Linked DNA regions of Homo sapiens: region 1 is linked to region 2. Evidence: fine-mapped expression QTL. A gene starts in region 2. The other region holds a variant in brackets. All regions are shown on one strand. Distances are between the middles of the regions.

The links. PIP is the estimated chance that this variant, and not a neighbour inherited with it, causes the effect. A credible set is the group of variants that fine-mapping cannot tell apart.
Region 1: its variant is the best candidate, but not a certain one, in a credible set for the expression of WDR55 in whole blood (INTERVAL, PIP 0.53).

Annotation. Positions count from the first base shown.
Region 1 is chr5:140,694,935-140,699,325 of GRCh38, reverse strand. HARS2 (histidyl-tRNA synthetase 2, mitochondrial) reads right to left here. Exons shown (of 13, transcript NM_012208.4): 5 at 3,693-3,818; 6 at 3,481-3,588; 7 at 3,125-3,223; 8 at 2,712-2,805; 9 at 2,256-2,383; 10 at 1,920-2,162; 11 at 1,641-1,757; 12 at 1,248-1,394; 13 at 21-833. The coding sequence ends at 774. Among named protein-coding and RNA genes, the nearest start is that of ZMAT2, 3.3 kb to the left of the region's middle. The variant G/AG (reference allele first, on the strand shown) is at 2,498.
Region 2 is chr5:140,662,479-140,666,869 of GRCh38, reverse strand. It overlaps WDR55 (WD repeat domain 55), which reads right to left and starts at 1,966. Exons shown (of 7, transcript NM_017706.5): 1 at 1,767-1,966. The coding sequence starts at 1,957. It overlaps LOC124901088 (a long non-coding RNA gene), which reads left to right and starts at 1,433. Exons shown (of 2, transcript XR_007058968.1): 1 at 1,433-1,505; 2 at 1,713-4,391. It overlaps IK (IK cytokine), which reads right to left. Exons shown (of 20, transcript NM_006083.4): 20 at 4,390-4,391. RefSeq lists enhancers at 1,832-1,961, 2,312-2,471, 1,889-2,555.

The DNA.
Region 1 (4,391 bases), 32 kb before region 2:
TAACAAATTACCCAAACTACTACACTTAATATTTTATTTAACATGTTATCCAACCACTTCTAAAACAGCCTCCATGGCACGGTATGGAATAGAGCAGTGATTCTGGCACAGGAAATGGTCTCCAAAATCTCAAAATATCAGATCTCTACCTTGTCAAGTCATCTATTAAGTTCAATGTTCAAGATTATCAAGCATACAGCCCCACTCTTCTACTGTAAGCAATGGATGGGCTAGAGAGATGTCAAATCAACATGGGTACTGCCATGCCCTTAGGATAGCATCTGTCCTCAAAGCTGAAAGCAGCCATTGCCCCTCTTTGCTGTCTTCCAAAAACTCCCCAGACAGGCCAATGGCTGATTGTGGACAAATTCACCAGAATCTGGTTCCGTAGCTACAGTAGAAGGCTAAGTATCTGGTTTCTGATCTCAATGGTTCAGAATCCTGAGCCTGAGGTGACTCTCCCAGAGCCTTGCTCACAGCAACAATCTCACTACCTCTTGACAACGTTCCGTGGCACTTCAAATTTGCCTCTGCAGCTAGAGCATGTCTCTTTCACATCCAGCCATCTGCACCCATGCAGAATAGCTGCTCACACTAGCCCAGGAGTCCTCAGGGTCTTCTACAGTTCTGCACCCAGGAAGAATGGAGGAGGCAGAAGGTACTTGTCACCCTTCCTGGCTAGTTGTTGTGAAGTCCATCACTCAATTCCAGAGGAATTCAGTTCTAGAGGAAACCTTTTCTACAAAGAGCAGCAGATGGGAATCAGGCAAGGATCAAGACTCAGACAGTCGCTTCTGAATTTCAGCCACAAAATTTTCCCGTTTAATGGCCACCTGAAACATAAGAGAATCCTCATGTGATAAACTAGAAAGTGATACTAACTCCTTAGCCACTGTTTTTCCAGATTTGTTTTACTCTGCATCTTCTCCCATTACTTATACAACCAGAAAGGAGTAGTGTGGGTTGACCTGAAGAATGTATACCCTCAAGATGAAAGGGATTCAAACACCTGATCTATGTCTATTATGTTGATTAGTCTCAAAATACCCATTCGGATTTCATTTGTCTTTCTTCTGGCCACCCAGTCAATACTCACAGGCAGCAATGGTCATCTTGAGTGAGTGTTTGTTCATCTCTACCACTATTAACCATGAAGATAATTTCTCAGCCAGAAGATGCATATTTCTTACAGAATCTGGGAAAGGCAGAAATACTTCGTCCCTTCTATTTCTGCTGCCGCCACTCACCTCCTCTCTGCTGGCCACTGAACGGATCTTGATGACCCCTTCTTTCAGTTCTTGCTCACCAATAATGACCACCAGTGGAATGCCTGTGCTCTCACAATAGTGCAGCTGGGTTAATAGTTTGGGGTTGTTCTTGTATAGCATCTCTGCCTGAAAAGGATCAAGACAGAGTAAGGGACTTAGAAGTGAACACAGCAACAAACCTCAGGAACATGGATATCCAAGAAAGCCAGAGATAAGTGGCTAGTCCGCCTACCCTAAAAAGCCAATCTAGTAGCCAGTAGTAGCTAGCAGACTAAAAAGGTTTTGAGTTCCACCCCAGACATAAGATAGATATAGCCCTGGGTCCTAAATTCCACACATACCCAGATGGCTCAGATATCAGCTCCACCATACCTTGATTCCAGAATCCCAAAGCTCTGCAATAAGCTTCAACCGTTCTTGGAGAAAGTTCTTCTGTGGTGTGGCCACAAACACTTGAGTCTCTGTAGTCCGCACCTTCTCACCTTTGGTCTAATAAGAGAGAAGAAAGTAAAACTAATAAAAACCTCCTTTCCACCAGCAATTCCAAAAATCAAGACAAAAAGAATCATCAGAAAACCACTCCAACTACACCTCCAGAAACAGGAGGGTTTTTAGGTCTCCAGCCCCACCTCACACCTATCTAGGACCTACCTTCATCCTCTGCTCCACAATGTAGAAGATTCGCTCAACCCCAATGCTGAGTCCCACACATGGCACCTTGTGGCCCTTGGGGTCAAACATGCCCACCAGCCCATCATAGCGCCCACCAGCAGCCACACTGCCCACATTCAGGGGCTCCTCCCCAGCCTGAGTTGGGGTCTGCAGCAGCACTGCTTCATAGATCACTCCTGTATAGTAGTCTAGGCCCCGAGCCAGGCTGAGGTCAAAGGAGATCTGTGGGGACAAGATTACAGTCAGTCCCAAACTAGACTCGGGACCCTGAGAGCCCTAGAGCTCAGCAGGAGGTCCATTTGCAATTCAGCTTACCTTATCAGCAATTCCAAATAAAGTCAGGTATTCAAATAGCAGCTTTAGGTCTCCCAGGCCCTCCAGGGCCTGCTTGTTCTGGGATAGTCTGGGATCCTGAAACATTTGCTCTACTAGGGATACCCCACCTGGAGAGAAATAAAGTCTCTGCTGTTCACTCACATGTGTTTCATTCAAAATTATCCCTAATGTGCTCTAGCTAGTCTTCCTCATTTTCTTTAAAAAAAAAAAAAAAAAAAAAA[G/AG]ATCCCAGTCTCACATGACAAGACCCTCCTCCTTTGCCTCTAGCTTTGCCATCTGAAGACACAAAGTCGTTACAATAAGTAAAAGAGAAATTAAATTCAGGACAGGCCCTGGAGCTTAGCATATCTACAGAAAAGAGTTGTTTCAGAGGTAGAATTTGAGCACATGTCACCTTCAGCCTGGTTCTATCACAGCTCTGAAAACCCTGGTTCTTACCATGACACTGGACATAGTCCCCAATTCGATCAGCCACCTCAGGAGCCAGGCCTTTCTTCACCACCATCTCATGTCTCACATCTTTCCAAGCCATCTGCATAAACACCCAAACATTAGCCCAGCCCCAAGATCTTTCTTTCTCAAACTGAAAAAGGACAACTCAACTTCCATTCAGTATATACATCACAAGTAGCTAACTGTATACTCAGCAAAGTCAGAGACAGCTTAAGAAATCCAGTCACAATCCCCACTGTATAGCATGACTCAGATCTTCCTTCAGAGTATGCCTCCTTACCTTCCACCCCAAAATAGCCCACTTCCAGCCACAATCTCCTTATTTTTCACTAGTGGTATGGATTTGAGGGCAGGGCAGAAGCTAGATAGGGTCTACTGAAGTATGTCTTCTTTGTTACCTTGTCTAGTTTATCTATGGAGGAGCAGATGGCACGGAACTTGCTTTCAGGAACACCACAGACAGCAAACATCCCATCCACAATCCGCCGGTCATTTACCTGAGAACTCAATGTCAGTGACCCAAGTGCTTGTCAATGCCCTTCCACTCAAAACAATGGCAGTACCTACTTTCCTGACACACAAAAAGGATGGAAATTTCACAGGAAGAGTACAGACATATAGGAAATACAACAGCTTTACTAGGAAAGTCCTACAGTTGCAGGCTTAAGGGTTGGAGTCACCCAAGTTTGGGACTTGCATAAACAGTATTAGGCCAAATCCAGACTTCTCCCACAGTTCTCAGCCCTGGCCTCACCTTAATGAGAAAGTCTCCCAACTGCAATCCACTTAGGATTTCACACATGATCTTCAAACACTCTGCATCGGGGATCATAGGGTCAAACTGACCAGCAATGTCAAAATCCTACAGCAAAGAAAAAGATGGGAAAAAACATCCATTATCCAGCCAGTTTCAAGGTTGTGGCCCCTAGAACTATCAAACTGTGCTGCTCCCATCAGGTCACTTACACACTGGCAGAACTCCCTATAACGGCCTTGGACTATGGTTGGGCTCTCTCGCCGCCACACCTTTCCAACATGATAACGTTTCATCTTCTTCACCTTATTCATGGCCAGATAACGAGCAAAGGGAACCTCACATAAATGGGTTAAGGAAGAGGGATACTGCATCCAAAGATTAGGCCCAGTATACAGACATTAGGGAGGACTGGGCCTGGATCTCATCCACTAGGGTAAGAACAAGGACCTTCCCTTTTTTCCACTATCCCCAAGGCCTAGCAGTGCTTGGAATTCAATATATATTGAATAGTGTCAAATGAAGGAATCTCACCTAGCAAAACTAAAAGTTCAGCAGAAAGCAAGGCAAGTAGAGATAGAAGTGACCCAAGAACTAACTTCAGGTCTTTCTGCCCATTCAGATCGATTCCGAACCATCTCAAAATAGTCAAGCTTCAGAACTTGGATTTGCCTAACAACTTCTAAGCTACTGGTTCTGAAAGTGCAGGGAAAGGACTACATGCATCTTAATTACCCACGATGCTTGTTTAAAATGCAGACTGTAGGCCAGATGCAGTGGCTCACACCCGTAACCCCAGCACTTTAGGAGGCCAAGATGGGAGGATCACTTGAAACGATGAGTTTACAACCAGCCTGGGCAACAAAGACACCCATCTCCACAAAAAAAATTTTTTTTTTGAGACAGAGTTT
Region 2 (4,391 bases):
CTAGAGGTTGGAGATAAAATAGAGAACAAAACCGATGACAGATTACACTCCAGAACAGTGTTTTTTCACATTCTAGTCATATAACGGACTAGTAAGCTACGATCAGCATTTTGTGTACATGTACACAATAATAGAATAAAATCAGCAATTGTATCACAGAGCATCATATATAATGTAAAAGGTATTTCTCTGTGAGGCAAGGTCAAAGACGTTTGAAAAACATTAGTGAAGGAGACAGCATTCAAATAATTACACAAATGGACATATGGTTACCAACCATTCATTATTAAGGGAAAGGTACCATGGCACCTGGTGCCATGGCAGCATCTAACAGGTAACCAATTTTAGTCTGGGGAGAGAGGAAGAGGGAAGAGATCCTGGAAACTCAGAGATAGTAGGTAAAAGTGAGGGGAAAGGAGTTTTCCGGACAGAATAGCACATGCAAATGGGCTGAGGTTTCGAGATTTTTTTTTGAGATGGAGTTTTGCTCTTGTTGCCCAGGCTGGAGTGCAATGGCACGATCTCGGCTCACTGCCACCTCCACCTCCCAGGTTCAAGCGATTCTCCTGCCTCAGCCTCCCGAGAAGCTGGGATTACAGGTGCCCGCCACCACACCCAGCTAATTTTTCTATTTTTAGTAGAGACAGGATTTCACCATGTTGGCCAGGCTGGTCTCCAACTCCTGACCTCAGGTGATACCCCACCTTGGTCTCCCAAAGTGCTGGGATTACAGGCATGAGCCACCACGCCCGGCCCAAGACGTATTTTTAAAAGGTATGGATGAATGAGCACAGATGGTCAGGGCGTTGAAGGCAGGATTGAGAAATTTGTACTAAATCCTAAAAGCAGACCATTGAAGGGTTTTAATCAAGGGAGTGTCTCACTCTATTGTCCAAGCTGGAGTGCAGTGGCACGATCTTGGCTCACTGCAACCTCCACCGCCCGAATCCAAGTGATTCTTCTGCCTCAGCCTCCCGTGTAGCTGGGATTACAGGCCCGCGCCACCACACCGGGCTAATTTTTGTATTTTTAGTAGAGACGGGGTTTCACCATGTTGAACAGGCTGGTCTCGAGCTCCAACCTCAGGTGACCCGCCCACCTCGGCCTCCCAAAGTGCGGGTATTACAGGCGTGAGCCAAGATTTGTGGTTTGAAAAATCACTTAAAGGGGCCTGCTGAGCCTGTCTCGGGCACAATATAATAATCCGGTAGGAGTCCGGGCACGGTGGTTTACGCCTGTAATCCCAGCACTCTGGGAGGAAGGCAGGTGGATCACGAGGTCAGGAGTTCAAGACCAGCCTGGCCAAGATGGTGAAACCCCGTCTCTACTACAAATACAAAAAAAATTAGCCGGGCGTGGTGGCGGGCGCTTATAATCCCAGCTACTCGGGAGGCTGAGGAAGAGAACTGCTTGAACCCGGAAGGGGGAGGTTGCAGTGAGCCCAGATCGCGCCACTGCACTCCAGCCTCGGCGACAGAGCGAGACTCCGTCTCAAAAATAAATAGGTAAGTAAATAAATAATAATCGGTGGGAAATAACAAGGCCTTAAAGGGCTTTTTGGCCTACTACGGTATCTGGGCTCTGTCACGACATTCCAGTTCTTTCAACAGATTGGTGTGATAGAAGAGCCGAATGTTACTGAATAAATTGGACCCAAAGAATCTTGCAAAATTTGTCTCCCTGCAACTTTCTCTCATCTCTCCTGTTCCCAGGTCCACCCCCGGGAAGCTTCCAGACCCGGCGCCCCGGCCCTGCCCCGCTCTCACACGAACACGTCCCCGTCCACGTCCCCTGCAGCCAGTAGGTCACGGGCCGGATGGAACGCCAGCCCACTAGCCGGAGCTTCCAGCACGATGTCTTCCGGAGTGTCCCGGATCCGGGTTGGGGCTTCCATGGAGTCTGGGTCCTCCTCGTCGCTCCCATCCTCAGCGGGCCTCTCCTCACAAGTGCGGTCCATGCTGAGAAGGACTGCGAGCCGCGCCGCCGCAGGGTAGTCAGCCTCGGAACCACCCACACTGCGGGAGGAGTAGCCTGGCACTCCGCTTCCGCCTCGGGGGGCGGGGCCGGAAGTGTCTCCGGGACGTTCTTCCTCTTACAGGAGAGGTGGGTGGGCCGCTGCTGGTGCGGGTGGAGCGGAGCGAAGAGACCGCATCTGGGAGATCGGCTACTTCCTTGTCCTGCTGTGACCCCGTTTGGGCTAGGTAGACGGTGCGACCGTCAATTCCCTCCCTAGTCACGTCACGTAAAGTTGAGAACTGCGTGTAAATCTTTCCTCTCCTACTTCATCCAGACAGGCTTAATGCCCTTGGGATAGGAGAGAGGGACGCTAGTCCTTCGTGGCTTGGTGAAACCCAAGATCAAGTCAAGCGACAGCCTGGGCTGTCAGGAAGCCGCAAAATCCCACGCTGCGCGATGACATACGGGAGTCTGGGACAGCAGGCAGCTCAAGCAGCTGGTGTCCACGCCCCTAACGTCTTTGTGGCCAGTTTGCTGTGCCAGTTCCTACAATTTGTCTACAGAAACTCAATGGGCTGGACAAGCAGTGCTCAGTTACCAAGAATTTTTTTTTCTTTTTTGTTTTGCTTTGTTTTGAGACAGGGTCTTGCGCTGTCGCGCAGGCTGGAGTGCAGTGGCACGATCACCGCTCGGCTCAAGCGATCCTCCGAGTAGCTGGAACTACAGGCACGCGGCACCACGCCTGGCTAATTTTTATTTATTTATTGAGACGGAGTCTCGCCCTGGCTGGAGTGCAATGGTGCGATCTCGGCTCACTGCAACCTCCGTCTCCCGGGTTCAAGAGATTTTCCTGCCTCAGCCTACCGAGTAGATGGGACTAGAGGCGCATGCCACCACGCCCAGCTAATTTTTTGTATCTTTAGTAGAAACAGGGTTTCACCATGTTGGCCAGGCTGGTCTCAAACTCCTGACCTCGTGATCCGCCCGCCTTGGCCTCCCAAAGTGCTGGGACTACAGGCGTGAGCCACCGCACCTGGCCAATTTTTGTATATTTTGTAGAAACGAGGACTCAGTATGTTGCCCAGGCTGGCCTTGAACTCTTGACGTGTCTTCCCACCTCAGCCTCCCAAAGTGCTAGGATTATAGGCGTGAGCCACGGCGCCCAGCCCCTGAATTTCTTTTTTTAAATCAAGGTCTTGCTCTGTCACCCAGGCTCAGAATGCAGTGGTGTGATCATAGCTCACTACAGCCTTGAACTCTTCGGTTCGATCCTCCTGCATAGCTATAGACTCATGAACTCCTGGCCTCAAGAGACTCTCCTGCTTTGGCCTCCCAAAGCACTGAGACTGTGGGCATGAGCCATCGAGCCTGGCCTCAGAAACTGAATTTCAAACCCACAATCTCCAGGTCTTGCTTTTAGTGACTCTCCAGATGTCTTCACCTGTGCCATGTCTCTGTGACCATTTTTAATAATTGGGACTGCCTACCTACATCCATAGAACCATGGTGTCATTTGTCTGAAATTAGCCATTCTAGGTGCTATTGCAGCAAGGCCCAATTTCAGCCTCTTACATGCCATGCACAATACTGGCTTCCTCACAAAAACCTGTCCTACCAAGGTGAATATAATCAAAGACAAGGTAATGGCTAAGGTGACTTTCTAGCTTTCTTGGATCTGGTGAGGCCACAAATCTTGGGCTCAGGGTAGACAGTGGCAGCGTGGCATCCAGCCAGGAAGCAGTAGTGACACCTAATGATGAGCACCAGGCCAAAGTGCTGGTAATGAGCAGAAGGGAAGAAAAGGGAAGGGAATGGTGTGATTCAAAGGTCAACAGACCTATTCTGGGCCTTGGCAAATGTTTCAGGGTGATGAAGGGCACCAAACCCTTCTGGTCTAGGATAGGAATTCCTGTACCTGCAGGGCCACACTATATCAGCTCTAAACCCAAAGCACTTCCCTAAGGTTACACCTTTAGCCAAGGAGACAGTGATTTGTACTCAACATTAATAAAGCTCATAGTACATAAACTCATAAAAGGTTTTGGTTCCCACCCATAAGTGATTTTCATTAGATGCCTTCATCCAGAGCCCAGTCCTTCATAGCCTGGAGATCAGATTAGCAGCCCATCAGGCTGACAGCAATCCCCAGGAAATCTTTCCCCAGGGACTAGGCCTGAAGATGGGCCGGAATGAGTCTGACATTTGAGACCAATCATACTTACATTCCTCTATCCACCTCTTGCCCATCAGTGAGGATCATTATTCTCTTCTCTACTGGGCACACTGGCTAGAGAGCATCCTTACTGTCTAGGAATCTAGAACCACAGCTCAGGAAAGGACTGATGACTTTCTGCATGTGATTTTACACAACCAGTGGAATTAGTGTTCTTGGTGCTTCAAGGGCACTGGAGGGGACATGCTCAACAAAGAAAATA